Homo sapiens: one gene and its partners. The protein of the gene in region 3 purifies or fractionates together with the protein of the main gene of each other region. This does not show direct contact. Each region holds a gene or a part of one and is shown on either strand. Other genes may lie near its edges.

Region 1 (3,500 bases), on a different chromosome or scaffold from region 3:
TGGAGATTATAGTCATTTGTTAGTACCATGAACTTTGACCCTGAGGTACTGCCTTCTCCCTCTTATGTACCCAGAATAGCCTATGTAATTAGATTGCTTATGGACTTCTGCTTCATGGTTTTTCAGTTAATGTACTGGGCACCATTTAAAAAAACAAAACAGAACAAAACAAAAAAACCTTTCTGCTACTCCTCCAGAATTGTTTTCTGTCTTGGTCAAAAAAAAATTATGCTTTTTCCAACTTTGAAGGCACACAAAGTGCTATTGTTGCTGTTGCTGAAACAAAGGTCTTCCATAGGAAAATTAGATCCTGAAAACTCAGAACATTTCACCTCAGCACTGCTTACAGTACTGCAGGATGATGCTTATCCTCGCCTCTGTTTCAGTTCTCTCAGCTACTGGAAGAGAAAAACACCCTTTCCATTCAGCTCTGCGATACCAGTCAGAGTCTTCGTGAGAACCAGCAGCACTATGGTGACCTTTTAAATCACTGTGCAGTCTTGGAGAAGCAGGTTCAAGAGCTGCAGGCGGTGAGTAAAGAGAAGGTGAGAGACTGGGAGAAGTGTGATGAAATTTAGTGCAAGTGGTGAAGCACTACAGAGCAGTATGGAAGAAGTTAATGTAATTAGGGGTCAGGGAAGAAAGTGGGAGAGAAGAAAGAGTTAATTGAGATGGGAATAAGGTCTGAGAAAAATTACAGTGAAGCAATTAGAAGAAAAAAGATCAGTGAGATGGTGGGAGAGAAATCAAAACATGAGTAGGAAACAGTGATGACTGAGACATTTGGTACTCTGAAACAGAGAAAGTGTTGATTTTGCTTTAAGTTATAAGAAAATTGTAGGAAACTTTGGATCTGAGAACAAAACAGGCAGCACTGTTGACAGCCAGGGAGAGGAGTACAGCATTGAAGTTGGAGGAGACTGAGAATTAGTATGGAGACGTATAGGATACGGAGGAGGAAAAGGGGGTTGGGAGGGGCTGGACAAGCAAGGGAAGGATCAAAGTGGCTTCTGGAAAAGCCATAAGCATCCACAGCAGACTTAACTTTTTTTTTTTTTTTTTTTTTTTTGAGACGGAGTCTCGCTCTGTCGCCCAGGCTGGAATGCAGTAGCACGATCTCGGCTCACTGCAACCTCCACCTCCTGGGTTCAAGCAATTCTCTGCCTCAGCCTCCCGAGTTGCTGGGATTACAGGCGCCTGCCACCACACCCGGCTAATTTTTTGTATTTTTAGTGGAGACAGGGTTTCACCATCTTGGCCAGGCTGGTCTTGAACTCCTGATCTTGTGATCCACCCACCTCGGCCTCCCAAAGTGCTGGGATTACAGGCTTGAGCCACGGCGCCCGGCCCAGACTTAACTTTTAAGAGGAGAAATTCAAGAATGAGAATCTGGGAGAAAAATCTAATCAAGACAAGAGTTTTATGTAGGTGAGTAATCTGCTAGAGCAGAAGCTTCTCACTTCTAAATTTGGACTTGAGAATTATAAGCGGGGATAGTCCTCTGTAAACGAGCTCTCATTTTGCTCAAATACACTTTCTTAAGAGCTTTCATCACTGAATTACTAAGCTTATTCTTCTTCCAGGGGCCACTAAATATAGATGTTGCTCCAGGAGCTCCCCAGGAAAAGAATGGAGTTCACAGAAAGAGTGACCCTGAGGAACTAAGGGAACCGCAGCAAAGGTAGGGGAGTGGCTCTCTAAACCCTGGAGCATACACCAGAGTCCAGAAATTGGGCAGTAATCTAGATTTAACTGGAGTCCTTTATATGGATTTAATATGTCTTGTTATCTTATTAGCCTCACAGAAGTGATGTGAGGATCAAATAGTAACAATAATAACTAACATTTGTGTGTGAAAAGTTTGTAAAACAAAAAGAGCAACACCAACACACACACACCACTAACAACTACTCTATGATAGTAAAATGAAAGATAATCAGTTCCTGAAATTTCTTTAGGTATTTTCTGCAGCTTCATTTAATCCCTCTACAGCTTTGCTTTTAAAATATTGTGTTTAGACAAGCTTCTATGGATTTTCTTGCTTTACAACCTTATGAAGACTTTGAATCCCTTGTATTAGCAACTGTTTTCTGCATCTGATGATGCTTTTTGTTTTCCTCTCATCCTAAAGCTTTTCTGAAGCTCAGCAGCAGCTATGCAACACCAGACAGGAAGTGAATGAATTAAGGAAGCTGCTGGAAGAAGAACGAGACCAAAGAGTGGCTGCTGAGAATGCTCTCTCTGTGGCCGAGGAGCAGATCAGACGGTAAAGGCTGAAGGAGATAGCCTCTGTTCCCTTCCGATCCTTTCTGATCAAACTCATGTACATTTCCTGCCAGACTTAGGATTTCTTAAGATCTTTTTCTCATCTTGAGGTAGTTGCTGCAATGAGTTTACCAACATTGTGGTCACCCAAGAGAACACTGTACTTTTGGAGTATAAGAGAGTCAGTGTTTTCTAAAACAGTTGTTCTTAGAGAATAATAATGATATCTACCATTACTGAAAGATATTTTATTTCACCCTAACCATAACTATATGAGGTAGGTGTTGGGTTCTCTAGAGGACCAAATAAGTGACAACCTCATTTTCTACCTGAGATCTGAATCCATGGAAATCTTTTTTAAAAGATTAAAAGATTGAGAGATTAAAAGACTGCTTTATAAATGATGTTAAAAGAATGTAGCTTTTTATTTGTTGGCAAATGCACTTCCTAACCCTGAACTTCCCCTCCCAGTCACAGACAATGTTGGGCCAAGGTAGACCTCCTTCACAGAAAATCCTGCTCTTGCCAAACAAGAGTATTGGAATAACAGAGTGAACTGTGCTTCCTATGAGCAGTTTGCTCCAAGTGTAATTTGGAAGGGCAGAGCTACACATCCCTAGTTCCTTATTCTCATCAAAAGAATCACTATGCATGAGAGGATAGAGAGTTGCTACAAGTATTTTGCTGCTGGAAGTCCCTTTCCACGGAAAATATCGTTAAAAGCAGGCACTTTTATTATATTTTGGGAGAAAGCCACCTATGTATATGATCACTTTCCTCAGAGAATGACATTTCTGATATTAATGCTTTCTTGTAAAGTTTATGTGGCAGAGGTGACAGCCCCATTGAGCAGGTCTTACTTGAGATACCTTTCTTTCCAATCCAACATATTCACAACTTCTTAATTTTCATCACCTATTCAGGCCTTGATATGCAGCTTTGAGGGTGGGCCAGCTTTGCTTAATGCCTTGTGTGGTGTCTTGCCATCTCTGCCGAGCATTTTCAGGCCTGTGCCCTCATGACTGTTTCTCTTCTACTTGCTATTGAATTGTTTAGACCGGTGAAACCTGGCCAATGGGGAGGTTGATCTCCCTCTTGTGTAACTAACCTGTCCCAAACCAACTGAGACTGCATGTGTGGGATGATGACTCTTGAGCCTGTGGGCAAGCCGTATTAATTCAAGCCACAATTCCCTCTTTAGCTCTGATGCAGAATGGAAGTTGGGGTAGCTAATT
Region 2 (2,464 bases), about 120 Mb from region 3:
TTTCCTTCTAGCAGGTGGTAGATATCAGGTCATCAGTCTGCACACCTCCCTTCAGAGCCTCAGGGATTCCCAGAGGTGCATCAGAGGACGTGGGCAGCCAAGGGGGTCAGAGGCACCTTACAAAATAAGCCACGGGTGGTAACATTCTTATATCATCACCTTTACAGCTCGGCTTCTTCAAAAGAAAATATGAAAAGATGACCAAAAATCCAGATGAGATTGATGAGACCACAGAGCTCAGTAGCTGAACCAGCAGACCTACCTGCAGTGGGAACCGGCAGCATCCCAGCCAGGGTTTGCTGTTTGCGTGAATGGATTTCTTTTTAAATCCCATATTTTTTTTATCATGTCGTAGGTAAACTAACCTGGTATTTTAAGAGAAAACTGCAGGTCAGTTTGGAATGAAGAAATTGTGGGGGGTGGGGGAGGTGCGGGGGGCAGGTAGGGAAATAATAGGGAAAATACCTATTTTATATGATGGGGGAAAAAAAGTAATCTTTAAACTGGCTGGCCCAGAGTTTACATTCTAATTTGCATTGTGTCAGAAACATGAAATGCTTCCAAGCATGACAACTTTTAAAGAAAAATATGATACTCTCAGATTTTAAGGGGGAAAACTGTTCTCTTTAAAATATTTGTCTTTAAACAGCAACTACAGAAGTGGAAGTGCTTGATATGTAAGTACTTCCACTTGTGTATATTTTAATGAATATTGATGTTAACAAGAGGGGAAAACAAAACACAGGTTTTTTCAATTTATGCTGCTCATCCAAAGTTGCCACAGATGATACTTCCAAGTGATAATTTTATTTATAAACTAGGTAAAATTTGTTGTTGGTTCCTTTTAGACCACGGCTGCCCCTTCCACACCCCATCTTGCTCTAATGATCAAAACATGCTTGAATAACTGAGCTTAGAGTATACCTCCTATATGTCCATTTAAGTTAGGAGAGGGGGCGATATAGAGAATAAGGCACAAAATTTTGTTTAAAACTCAGAATATAACATGTAAAATCCCATCTGCTAGAAGCCCATCCTGTGCCAGAGGAAGGAAAAGGAGGAAATTTCCTTTCTCTTTTAGGAGGCACAACAGTTCTCTTCTAGGATTTGTTTGGCTGACTGGCAGTAACCTAGTGAATTTCTGAAAGATGAGTAATTTCTTTGGCAACCTTCCTCCTCCCTTACTGAACCACTCTCCCACCTCCTGGTGGTACCATTATTATAGAAGCCCTCTACAGCCTGACTTTCTCTCCAGCGGTCCAAAGTTATCCCCTCCTTTACCCCTCATCCAAAGTTCCCACTCCTTCAGGACAGCTGCTGTGCATTAGATATTAGGGGGGAAAGTCATCTGTTTAATTTACACACTTGCATGAATTACTGTATATAAACTCCTTAACTTCAGGGAGCTATTTTCATTTAGTGCTAAACAAGTAAGAAAAATAAGCTCGAGTGAATTTCTAAATGTTGGAATGTTATGGGATGTAAACAATGTAAAGTAAGACATCTCAGGATTTCACCAGAAGTTACAGATGAGGCACTGGAAGCCACCAAATTAGCAGGTGCACCTTCTGTGGCTGTCTTGTTTCTGAAGTACTTAAACTTCCACAAGAGTGAATTTGACCTAGGCAAGTTTGTTCAAAAGGTAGATCCTGAGATGATTTGGTCAGATTGGGATAAGGCCCAGCAATCTGCATTTTAACAAGCACCCCAGTCACTAGGATGCAGATGGACCACACTTTGAGAAACACCACCCATTTCTACTTTTTGCACCTTATTTTCTCTGTTCCTGAGCCCCCACATTCTCTAGGAGAAACTTAGAGGAAAAGGGCACAGACACTACATATCTAAAGCTTTGGACAAGTCCTTGACCTCTATAAACTTCAGAGTCCTCATTATAAAATGGGAAGACTGAGCTGGAGTTCAGCAGTGATGCTTTTAGTTTTAAAAGTCTATGATCTGGACTTCCTATAATACAAATACACAATCCTCCAAGAATTTGACTTGGAAAAAAATGTCAAAGGAAAACAGGTTATCTGCCCATGTGCATATGGACAACCTTGACTACCCTGGCCTGGCCCGTGGTGGCAGTCCAGGGCTATCTGTACTGTTTACAGAATTACTTTGTAGTTGACAACACAAAACAAACAAAAAAGGCATAAAATGCCAGCGGTTTATAGAAAAAACAGCATGGTATTCTCCAGTTAGGTATGCCAGAGTCCAATTCTTTTAACAGCTGTGAGAATTTGCTGCTTCATTCCAACAAAATTTTATTTAAAAAAAAAAAAAAAAGACTGGAGAAACTAGTCATTAGCTTGATAAAGAATATTTAACAGCTAGTGGTGCTGGTGTGTACCTGAAGCTCCAGCTACTTGAGAGACTGAGACAGGAAGATCGCTTGAGCCCAGGAGTTCAAGTCCAGCCTAAGCAACATAGCAAGACCCTGTCTCAAAAAAATGACTATTTA
Region 3 (5,478 bases):
GACATTGACACCAAGATCTGGAGGAAAGTGGGAAGTTAAACTGGCAAGCAGCATGTACAAAGGCTTAAGTATGGAGACAGGCCCACGTGGCCCCCAGGAGGAAGGAGAGTGAGGTGTTTGAATAGAAGGAAGGAGGAGACATCGGAGAGGTACGTGGGGACATGATTCTGTGGCCACTCCAGGAGCAGTGGGCAGCAGCGGGGTGGCATAATCCCTGATCCTGGTCTCAGGCGGCTGATGTTTACTGAGCACTTAACACACCTGCATGTTCTCAACAAGCAATTCCTCAACAACTGGAAGGAACTGCAATTTCTCAACAAGGAAAAGGAAGTTTGTCTATTTGCTGTCTTGAGACTGACCGTGTGAAGGCTTCATTTCTAACCCATGAGAACGGTGGTTACAGAGACAAGAAGGCTAGAATGTTCTCTTCCATTGTCATGTGACATGGCTTTATCTCACATTTATTTGTACCATTTATTTTTATTTTTATTTTTTCTTTTTTTGGGAGGAGTCTTACTCTTTCTCCCAGGCTGGAGTGCAGTGGCATGATACCAGCTCACTGCAATCTCCACCTCCCAGGTTCAAGTGATTCTCCTGCCTCAGCCTCCTGAGTAGCTGGGATCACAGGTGCCTGCCACCACGCCCGGCTAATTTTTGTATTTTTAGTAGAGACAGAGTTTCACCATGTTGGCAAGGCTGGTCTCAAACTTCTGACCTCAAGCAGTTCGCCCGCTTCAGCCTCCCAAAGTGCTGGGATTACAGGAGTGAGCCACCGCACCTGGCCTGTACCATTATTTGATCAACATCTGTCTTCCCCCCTAGACTGGAAGCTCCAGGTGGGCAGGGACCATGTTTGTCCTCACCAAGGTATGCAAGGCCTGGACACGGTAGGTACTTTGTAAATATTTGTTGACTAGATGGATGGACAGAAAATGAATGGATGGATGGGCCCTAAGCTAAGTTCTGTACATTTTTTTAAAAAAATCAGATTTCCACCCCACTAATGACTAAACTTGGGACTGTAGTTTCTGTGTCCTTCTGTTTTGCCCCTGCACGTGGCAATGCGAGACCGCTGCTCCTCTCCCCTCCACCTGCCTCGGTCTGGGCCCTTCCCTCACCTCCCTGCCTATAGTCTTGCCTCCTGGGTCCATCTTCCTCATTGCAGATGGGTGCTCTGAGTCACCAACCAGACCTTCAGTCTCCACCTTCCTCAGTCTACCACGGGTCTCTCGCACCCCACACACCCCACCTGCCGGCTCCCATTTCAGGCAAGTGCTCTGGGCCCTCTCAGCTGCCAAGCGAGCCCTTGTGCCCTGGACCATCTCGGCACAGAACATGCCGTGTCACATACGCTTACTGATCCATTTTTCTGAAAGTAACCTTGAGGGTCTTTCACATGAAAACCACCAGCTGGGCGCTCTAGGAGAGGGGTGATGTTTGAGACGCCCCCTGCCTAGGACCCATTTCCCTGTTCTGTTCCTGGTGAAACCCTTCTTACCCTTCCAGGCTTGGCTTAGATGTCACCTTAACGGTAACTCTTCCTAGTGCCCAGAGAGGGCAGAGGGCACTGGGTGACAGAGCCCCTGAAGGCCCACCCCCGGCCATGCCATCTCGAGTGTCCCCTGCTCACCTGTAGCGTGTCCCCAAAGGAGAGCTTGTGGATGACATGCGTCATGTCTGGGTTCTGTGGCTGGGCTGTGGCACTGTGTGTGGACACGTGGAAGTTGCCGGGGACCTGGGGGAGAAATGTGAGTTTCAGGAGTTTGGTTGACTTCTCCAGGGGGCGGAACATTGGGGCCTCACCCTGTGTGATCCAGGGAGGACACTGGAATCAGGCAGATCTGGGTTTGGATCCTGCTTGTATCATTTTCAACTGTGCAAAGGAGTCACCCCATCTCTCTGGGCCTCAGGCTCCTCATCTGCAGAATGGGGGCACTACCATAGCTTCCGAGGGGGCTGCCAGGACTATCTGGTGAGAGGGTGCATGTGAAGTGCCCATCTGGGCGACGGGCACAAAGCCAGGACTCATGGCAGCTGCTCCCCCTCCAGCTCTGTGGATTCTGGGCGGCTGACCCCACAGTCAGCTGGGGGATGACCTTTGAGCTTGCAGACTAATGGGGATTCCTCAGACTCCAAACCCCTATCATTTCCTACCCAAGTTTGCCCCAGTGCCCTAGACGGGGGATCCCTGATGGACAGACTGTGGTAGCCTCATCTCTTCCCTGGGTCTCAAGCCCTCGCAGAGCCAAGCCAGCAAGAGGTGCTGGATGAGTATTTACAGAACAAAGGATGCTGGTGACAACCATGTGGCAGGAGCCACTGCAGCTTCTCCTTGTTTCAGCACGAAGTCCCTCCTCCTCCCCCTCCTCCCCCTCCTCCTCCCAGATGCTTAGACTAGAACCCTTAGTATGATCCTGGAACCCTCCTCCTCCTCCCAGATGCTCAGACTAGAACCCTTGGTATGATCCTGGAACCCTCCTCCCTCCTCCCAGATGCTCAGACTAGAACCCTTGGTATGATCCTGGAACCCTCCTCCTCCTCCTCCTCCCAGATGCTCAGACTAGAACCCTTGGTATGATCCTGGAACCCTCCTCCTCCTCCTCCTCCCAGATGCTCAGACTAGAACCCTTGGTATGATCCTGGAACCCTCCTCCTCCTCCTCCTCCTAGATGCTCAGACTAGAACCCTTGGTATGATCCTGGAACCCCCCTTTCTCACTCCCGACGTCCCATCCATCAGCTGAAACCCTGTTAGCTCCACCTTCCAAACACACCTGGCGCCTGACCTCTTCTCTGCTGCCCTGGTCCAAGGTCGTCTCTTCATGGACAACAATGGCAGGCTCCTCCCTGGGCTCCCAGCTTCCATGTTCCCCACAGCCTGGGCCTTTTCCCAATAATGACTGTTAAGATCTTTTTAAACCCTACATCAGATCTCATCACTCCTCTGCCCAGAACCCTCCACGGCTTCTATTCTCTCAGAGTCCAGGTCCATGTCCTCGTGGTGGCCCACAGGCCACATCTGGCCGCTGGCCAAGCATCGTGTCCCCACCGCTTGGCCTCCTGCTGCTGTGTCCTCTGCTGCTTCCTGTCTGGTCTCCTGCCGTGCCGGGAACAGCATCCAGTGTGGCCCCATTTTAGGCCTTTGTGCCTGCACCCCTTCCTGGGACCCTCTTCCACATGGCCCTCCCTCGGACCCTCAGGGCCCAACAGAGAGGCCCTCCACGTCCACCTGTGCAAAAGAGCACCCTGGCCCCCATTCCCCATCCCCTTACCTGCTACAGCCTCTGGGATCACCTGCCATCTCATACCCATCCTGTTCTCGTCTGCCTCCTCCCATTAGCATGTCCACGCCCTGCTGTGCTCCCCAGACTCCGACACATAGCAGGTGCTCAATAGACACTTTTTGAATGAATGAATGACTAAACAAACAACACTGAATCCTTTGACTTTGTCATCTGATAATTCCCATTTTACAGAAAAGAAAATGGAGGCTCAGAGCAGTGAAGAAACTTGCTAAGGTCACATGTCGAGAGCTGCAGTCTCAGCTCACGTCTGTTGGACGCACTGCTCCCTCCTCTGATGCCTGGATGCCATCTACCTCCGCAGCCTGGGCTGATGGCCACATGGCGCCAGTCCTTCAGGAGATGCCGGAACTGGGGAGATGAGCAGACAAGAATCTGGCCTTGGCCAAGCCCCTGTGACACAGACTTGGAACAGACAATGAGACTCTGTGGGATCCACCCTGGCCCAGAGGAATTTGCAGACCATGGGGGTTACAGGGAAGGCCCCCGGCTCAATTGAGGGTGCAGGCTGTATTCAGGGAGGGCTTCCCAGGGGGAAGGACATCCTGTGTTAAGGCTCTGAAGATGAGTCTGCATTACTCAGGAAGAGAGCGAAAGGCATCTGGGCAGAGGGAACAGCATGAACAGGTGCAGAGGACAGAAACTTCCCAGCATGTGGGCTGTCTAAGGAACTAAGAGTCTGGTATTATTGAACTCCAAATGAGACGGAGGTGGCGGTGCTGGCAGCAGCAGGAAACAAAGAGGCACAAGGGAGGAGTTGGGGCTGTTTATCAAAGGTCCCCAGATGCCACACTGAAAAACTCGGGGGTTACCTTATTCCAGCCCAATGAAGAAGACTGTGCGAGCTGTGTCCGAGGAGGGAATATAGCTTATCGTGCAGCAGCCCATCAAAGTCTGATTTTGTAAGCATGTCTGTTTCAAACACAAAGTTGGGGACTTCCTGCAGGAATATTCCTACTTCAGCAGGGCCCGAGCTTGTGGCTGACAGGGGAGGCATCAAGCTGACAGCCTGTAGCCTCGGCCTCAGCAAACTCGCAGTGGAGCGAGCTGCAGGCTACAGTGGAGAAGGGACACTTGCTGGGTCAGGAGTGGAGCAGAAACAAAGGCGTGGCAAGATCTCCCTCGAGGGACAGCATCGCCTGCTTCAGGGACCCAATAACCCATAGTAGAGCGGTTGCTCTGAGTTCTACACTTGGCCCCAAGCCCAGCCCCACTTCCTAGCTGGGGAGCCTTAGGCGAGGTCAGTAACCACTCCATGCCTCAGTTTCTCCATCAGCGAAATGGGCGTAAAGCCAGAAGATTACTGGGAGGATTCATTGAGGTGATGCATACAAAGCAGCCCGCAGCTGGCCTCAGATCGGGTTTGTAGGGTGAACATGTTTGTCATCGGAGCCAACCAAGAAGGGCCCTCCCGGAAGAGGGAACACTCACAGGCAGGGCGTGAGGAAAAGCCCACTGTGGGTTTTAACATTTATGCCTCATTTTCACCGATAAAAATAATGCCTGGGTACATTTTCATGATAAAACAGTCATGAGACACAGTCAGACTAAAGACCCTGTTGCTGACCACCCCTGGGAGTAAGAAACCCACAGCCATAAGGCGTGTGTCCTCCCAGAGGTTTTCTACGCAGTGACACAGGGCCTTCCGCAGATCGGGCCATGGCAGAGTTCAGAACTGGGATTGGGGCCTGGGCCGCGTGCTCCGGGAGTGAAGTGAGTCAAGAAGGCTGTCCCCTCAGCACCTGCCACCCCTGCCGGGCCGTGCGAGGCTGTGACTCAGGAACCCACTCCCCCTCCACACCAAATCCATCACAGGTGGCTGACTCATGCCAGCACATGCTGGGCTGAAGAAAGAAACAGCAACGCTTTTAGAGCCTGTGACTTAGGAACCTACGTCAGTGTCTCTGATGGATTTTAAAAACATATAGCTGGAGCCAGGCCCCATACCCCTCACCCCATCCTGTCCTCCTCCTGCGGGGCTGGCTGATGAAACGAGGTCACCGTGGGGTCTCTGGTGAGGCTGCCGCTGCTGCTCAAAACACGCAAACTCTGACATCTGGCTGCTGGTCAACTTCCTGGGGGTCGGATAAGGAGGCCATGGGACAAGTCTCAGCCTGATGCTGGGAGAGAGGTGCGGGGGCTGGCTGCTGACCTTGCCATCACAGCACATGGACCCT

What was found.
Region 1: the proteins of ERGIC1 (region 3) and GOLGB1 fractionate together in Homo sapiens (co-fractionation; one large-scale study listed by BioGRID). This does not show direct contact.
Region 2: the proteins of ERGIC1 (region 3) and ITGA2 fractionate together in Homo sapiens (co-fractionation; one large-scale study listed by BioGRID). This does not show direct contact.

The regions. Positions count from the first base shown.
Region 1 is NC_000003.12:121,666,242-121,669,741, reverse strand, and holds part of GOLGB1 (golgin subfamily B member 1), read left to right. Parts: intron 1-386; coding exon 387-530; coding exon of another isoform or gene 531-545; intron 546-1,583; coding exon 1,584-1,681; intron 1,682-2,131; coding exon 2,132-2,266; intron 2,267-3,500. UniProt on the Homo sapiens protein: May participate in forming intercisternal cross-bridges of the Golgi complex.
Region 2 is NC_000005.10:53,090,352-53,092,815, forward strand, and holds part of ITGA2 (integrin alpha-2 precursor), read left to right. Parts: intron 1-167; coding exon 168-248; 3' UTR 249-2,464. UniProt on the Homo sapiens protein: Integrin alpha-2/beta-1 is a receptor for laminin, collagen, collagen C-propeptides, fibronectin and E-cadherin. It recognizes the proline-hydroxylated sequence G-F-P-G-E-R in collagen.
Region 3 is NC_000005.10:172,920,262-172,925,739, reverse strand, and holds part of ERGIC1 (endoplasmic reticulum-Golgi intermediate compartment protein 1), read right to left. Parts: exon of another isoform or gene 5,377-5,478; coding exon of another isoform or gene 5,256-5,376; exon of another isoform or gene 4,214-5,255; coding exon of another isoform or gene 4,115-4,213; exon of another isoform or gene 3,653-4,114; coding exon of another isoform or gene 3,637-3,652; exon of another isoform or gene 3,438-3,636; intron 1,736-3,437; coding exon 1,631-1,735; intron 1-1,630. UniProt on the Homo sapiens protein: Possible role in transport between endoplasmic reticulum and Golgi.